Regions from separate parts of the Homo sapiens genome. Here region 2 is linked to region 1. Evidence: fine-mapped expression QTL. A gene starts in region 1. The other region holds a variant in brackets. All regions are shown on one strand. Distances are from middle to middle. Region 1 holds the start of RPS23 (ribosomal protein S23). Region 2 overlaps ATG10 (autophagy related 10).

Region 1 (2,918 bases):
TATTAACTAGAGAACTAATGAGAAACTGTTTCTATCTTTTCAATCTAACCTCAAATGGCTGAGCTGAAGTCCTGTGATGTCAACCTAGTTTTCTGCCAGTCTTAATTTCATTAGCACAATGGGGGAAATTTCTAGACCTTTTACAGTTATAAAAGTAGACTGGAGTGGCAGCGTGGGCCTGTAGTCCCAACTACTTGCGAGGCTGACGTGGGAGGATCTATGCCTAGAACGTCAAGATGGCCAGCCTGTGTGACAAGGGACCCTATCTCAAAAAAAAAAAAAGAAAAAAGAAAAAAGGTATCTGAGGTAAGAATTAGAAAGTCTGGGCCGGACACAGTGGCTCACGCCTGTAATTCCAGCACTTTCGGAGGCCGAAGCAGGCATTATCACCTGAGGTCAGGAGTTTGAGACTAGCCTGGTCAACATGGTGAAACCCCATCACTACTGAAAATACAAAATATTAGCTGGTGTGGTAGTGGGCGCCTGTAATCCCAGCTACCTGGGAGGCTGAGGCAGGAGAAATGCTTGAACCTGGGAGGCTAAGGTTGCAGGGAGTCTTGCGCTACTGCACACCAGCCTGGGTGACAGAGCTAGACTGTCTCAAAAAAAAAAAAAAAAAAAAAAAAAGTCTGGGTTAAAATGGCTCTACCATCAAATATGATAGAACTATATGAAATTATTATTTTAAAAAGTCAAAACCAGTCAAATACTGGCAGTTTCATGTCTCAATCTTAGGTGTATGACCTCAATTAATTCTGATGCAAGTCACTTCTCTTCACCTTAGTTTTATCAAGTCGATAAAGTTCAATAGCTGACACGTGCCATTTACTTATAACAACTCCCACAGTAAAGGTGTTTGTGTCCTTTACTTCATCATTGCTAGTATCTTCTCCAATTCCTTCCAGGCCAACGTTAAATTAAAACCTTAACTACCTAATTCCCAAAAACTAATTTTACCAACTTTTAAATAGAACAAACGCTTTGCAATTTTACCCCACAATGCCCAAATGAATACTACTACACAAAAACCTGCAATTACTTTCAAAACAAGAATTCGTAAGTTCATGTCTCGAATTCCTATAATAAACTAAAACTTGACGGGAGCAATGGACTTACACTTTTTCCAGCACGATTCCTTTTGCATGAGAAGCACCTCCAAAAGGGTTGGCCTTTAGGGCTGTGCCCAAATGAGCTTTCTTATACTGTTTATCATGCCACTTCTGGTCTCGTCGGTGACTACGGAGCTTCCTAGCAGTACGAAGTCCACGACACTTGCCTAAAAATTAAATATTTTAGTTCTTCCGTAAAAACACGCCATCTACGTGTTTCCCATCTTCTAAGACACTCGCCTCACCTGGAATAAACCCTTAAGCCGATTGGCTCTCGTACTATTTATTGGCCTGTGGGCCAAACATTTGGCCTTCAAGTTGCCCTGAACCGACTAATAAACGTTCGAAGAGGGCTCCGGAGAATGTGTTCTCCCGAAGGACGAGGCCCCGCTCGAATGCCCGGGAGGAAGCGCTGGCCTCCCTGCGTCCCTCGGTACCCCGACCTCGGCGGCCTCCACGCCTCATGGGCCCCTTCCGCGCCGGACCACGTGCCTCCTGGAGCGGCGCTTCCCCGGCCCTCCCCCATGGAGCCTCTCCATGGCATCCCCCGCCCTACTCTATTCGCATCCGCCCGCCCGTCCCCAAGACCCCAAGTCCCGCTTGCAGCGCCCTTAAACCGGCCACAACAGCTCACCCATCCTGTCGGCGCCACGGGCCTGAGCGAAAGAGAGAAGCACCGCAGGAAGGAGCCACAAGCCACCGCGAGCAAGCCCCGCCCAGCCAAGGACCCCGCGCCGCTGTCTGCGCCGCGCCTGACCCGAGGCTGGGGTCTCTCCTTTGAAAACGACGCGTTTGCATCACTTTCCTGAGCCAGAATCTGCGTCTTATTTAATTTGCAAGAAATTCAGAGATATCTAATTTGCATGGTTTTTTTTCCCCCTTTTTCTTTTGAATGCTGGAGACCGGAGGAACATGGACTACCAATCCCAGAATGCGTTTTATGGGACCCGCTCACCGCGCAGGCGCTCTTGCCCAAGCCACTGAGAGCGGGACGCGGGGCTAGGTCAGAGTAGGAAGGAGTCGCTGAGCTGAATCTTTGTGGAGTGGAGTGGGGCGAGAGTCCTCCGAGTAGTCTGGAAAATTAGACTTCTGAGCCTTAATTCATACTTATAAGCAGCTAGTAAATTGTAAAATATAGTGAAGCAATGTAGTGTAGTAACTAAAACCCCAAGCTTTGGAGCCAGATTGGGCCTTTAACCCTAAAGTTGCCGTTTATTTTGACTGGCGAGTCATTTACTTATAGATTTATTTATTTTTATTTTTATTTTTTTCTGAGACAGGGTCTCACTCTGTCTTCTAGGCTGTTGTGCAGTGGTGCGATCTTGGCTCACTACAACCTCCGCCTCCCGGGTTCAAGCGATTGTCCCACCTCAGCCTCCTGAGTAGCTGGGATTACAGGCTTCCACCATCACGCCTGGCTGATGTTTGTATTTTCAGTAGAGAGGGGGTTTCACCATGTTGGCCAGGCTGGTGTCGATCTCCTGACCTCGAGTGATCCGCCCGCCTCGGCCTCCCAATGTGCTGGGATTACAGGCGTGAGCCACCGCGCCTGGCCATTTAATTAACTCTTTAATACTGTTTCTCCTGTAAGATGAACTAGCTGTGAGAGGTTTCTGGGATATTGGTTCACTCAGCAAGGATGTTTAAAAATGCCTTCTATGTGCCAGACGCTGTTGTAGGTACCGGGAATATGGCGGTTAAATTAAGAGGGTGAAGGTTTCTGCTCTGATACAGTTTATATTCTAAATGTGAGAGGACAGACCAGTTAGATAGATGTAAATTAAATAATTAAATAGATGATTTTTACAT
Region 2 (2,918 bases), 260 kb before region 1:
TTGTTCCATTGCTGGTGAGGAGCTGCGTTCCTTTGGAGGAGAGGCACTCTGATTTTCAGAATTTTCAGTTTTTCTGTGCTGTTTTTTCCCCATCTTCATGGTTTTATCTACCTTTGGTCTTTGATGATGGTGACGTACAGATGGGGTTTTGGATAGATTGTGAAGATTTTCTCCCAGTCTGTGGGTTGTCTGTTTACTCTGCTGATTATTTCTTTTGCTGTGCATAAGCTTTTTAAATTGTCTCGTCTATTTATCTTTGTTTTTGATGCATTTTCTTTTGGGTTCTTGGTCATTAAATCTTTGTCTAAGGCATTGTCTAGAAGGGTTTTTCCAATGTTCTGGAATTTTTTATGGTTTCAGGTCTTGAATTTAAGTCTTTGATCCATCTTTAGTTGATTTTTGTATAAGGTGAGAGAGAGGCGAGGATCCACTTTGATTCTTTTACATGTGGCTTGCCGATTATCCCAGCACCATTTGTTGAATAGGGTGTCCTTTCCCCACTTTATTTTGTTTGCTTTGTTGGAGATCAGTTGACTCTAAGTATTTGGCTTTATTTCTGGGTTCTCTGTGCTGTTCTGTTGGTCTATAGGCTTATTTTTTACGAGTTCCATGCTGTTTTGGTGACTATGGCTTTATAGTATAGTTTGAAGTCAAGAAATGTAATGCCTCCAGATTTGTTCTTTCTGTTTAGTCTTGCTTTAGCTATGTAGGCTCTTTTTTGGTTCCATATGAATTTTAGGATTGTTATTTTCCAGTTCTGTAAAGAATGATGGTGGTATTTTGATGGGAATTGCACTGAATTTGTAGATTGCTTTTGGCAGTGTGGTCATTTTCTTTCTTTCTTTTTTTTTTTTTGAGATGGAGTCTTGCTCTGTTGCCCAGGCTGGAGTGCAGTGGCATGATCTCAGCTCACCGCAAGCTCTGCCTCCCAGGTTCACACCATTCTCCTGCCTCAGCCTCCCAAGTAGCTGGGACTGTAGGCGCCTGCCACCACGCCTGGCTAATTTTTTGTATTTTTTTAGTAGAGACAGGGTTTCACCGTGTTAGCCAGGATGGTCTCGAGCTCCTGACCTCGTGATCCGCGCACCTTAGCCTCCCACAGTGCCTGGATTACAGGCGTGAGCCACTGCGCCCAGCCCCAGCAGTTTGGTCATTTTTATAATATCAATTCAACCCCTCCAAGAGCGTGGGATGTGTTTCTACTTGTTTGTGTTGTCTATGATTTATCTCAGCAGTGTTTTATAGTTTTCCTTGTAGAGATCTTTCACCTCCTTGGTTAAGCATATTCCTAAGTATTTTATCT[C/CT]TTTTTTTTTTTTTGCGGCTATTGTAAAAGGGGTTGAGTTCTTGATTTGATTCTCAGCTTGGCTGCTGTTGGTGTATAGCAGGGCTGTTGATTTGCGTATGTTGATTTTGTATCCTGAAACTTTGCTGAATTCATTTACCAGTTCTAGGAGCTTTTTGGATGAGTCTTTAGGGTATACGATAATGTCCTTAGCAAACAGTGACAGTTTGATGTCCTCTTTACTGATTTGGATGCCCTTTATTTCTTTCTCTTGTCTGATTGCTCTGACTAGGACTTTCAGTACTATGTTAAATAGAAGTGATGAAAGTGGGCATCCTTGTCTTGTTCCAATTCTCAGGGGGAATGCTTTCAACTTTTCCTTATTCAGTATAATGTTGGCTGTGGGTTTGTCATAGATGGCTTTTTTACCTTAAGATATGTCCCTTCTATGCTGGTTTTGCTGAGGGTTTTAATCATAAAGGGATGCTGGATTCTGTCAAATGCTTAACAAAAACTATTTGTTTTAGAAGAATTTAAGTAGTAAAATTTCTTTTCTTATGGAATGATCCATTGGGTCCAATATTATTATTAATGTTACCAGTGATATCTAGGCTGCTAAACTCACAGGTAAATTATTTGATCTTCTAGCATCACTTGACAGGATTGATCATTCTTTCCTCCTTGATATACTTTCTTCAATTGGTGTCCTTACTCTCTTAGTTCACCTTCTATATTACTCTTTATTCCTTTTCAGTCTCCTTTGCTGTTTCTTTATTTTTTCCCCACAGTCTCATAATATTAGTGCCCATGAGCAGTCCTATGTCTTATTCTCATCTCTAGCTAGTCTCATGACCATGGAGGTCTCATCATTTAAATTCCATCCAAATGCTAATTACTCCTAAATGTATATCCTCTGCCCAGATGTCTCTCCCTTAAGGCCAACTTCTTGACACTTCTACTTTGATGGATTCACTTAGATCCCGAAGCTAACATGTCCAGAATTAAACTCCTAGTCTCCCCGCTCCCAAACTTGTTCACCTACTACCACCCAAACCAGCCCTCTTTGAATTGATGACAACTCCATCCTTCCAGTTGCTCAAGCTACTGGAACTATCTTTAACTCCTTTATTTTTTTTACACCCCACATCTAATCCATTAGGAAATCCTGCTTGTTCCCTTTTCATAATATCCAGAATCATACCATCTGTCATCATCTTCCCTGCTACCACCCTGGTATAAACTATCGTCAACTCTTACTAGGATTACCTTCCTAATGATCTGACTGTTTTCACTCTTGCCTTCCTATGACATAACTCTTAAAATACAAGTCAGATTGTGTCACTTCTCAACTCAGATTAAAAGCCAAAATATTTACAATACACCATAAACTGTGCAGTTTGCTTCCTTCTCCACTTTCTTACTCCCCTGATTTCACCTCCTATTTTTCTTTCTTTCATCACAACTGTCCAGGCACGCTGACCTTGCTGTTCTTTAAACACTCCAGACAAACACTGCCACCCTGGGGCCTCTGAACTGACTGGCCCCTCTGTCTAGAACACTCTTCTTCCAGATATAGCTAAGTCATCCAGGTCCTTTGTGTGGTTGCTCACATGCCACCTCCTTAATGAGGCCTCCC

The links. PIP is the estimated chance that this variant, and not a neighbour inherited with it, causes the effect.
Region 2: its variant is fine-mapped to the expression of RPS23 in monocytes (CEDAR, PIP 0.95). The same link has a PIP of 0.9 or more in B cells.

The regions. Positions count from the first base shown.
Region 1 is chr5:82,276,577-82,279,494 of GRCh38, forward strand. RPS23 (ribosomal protein S23) reads right to left here and starts at 1,778. Exons shown (of 4, transcript NM_001025.5): 1 at 1,744-1,778; 2 at 1,117-1,276. The coding sequence starts at 1,747. It also overlaps the pseudogene ATP6AP1L. RefSeq lists an enhancer at 1,769-2,098.
Region 2 is chr5:82,015,852-82,018,769 of GRCh38, forward strand. All of the region lies in intron 2 of ATG10 (autophagy related 10), which reads left to right. Among named protein-coding and RNA genes, the nearest start is that of ATG10, 45 kb to the left of the region's middle. The variant C/CT (reference allele first, on the strand shown) is at 1,304.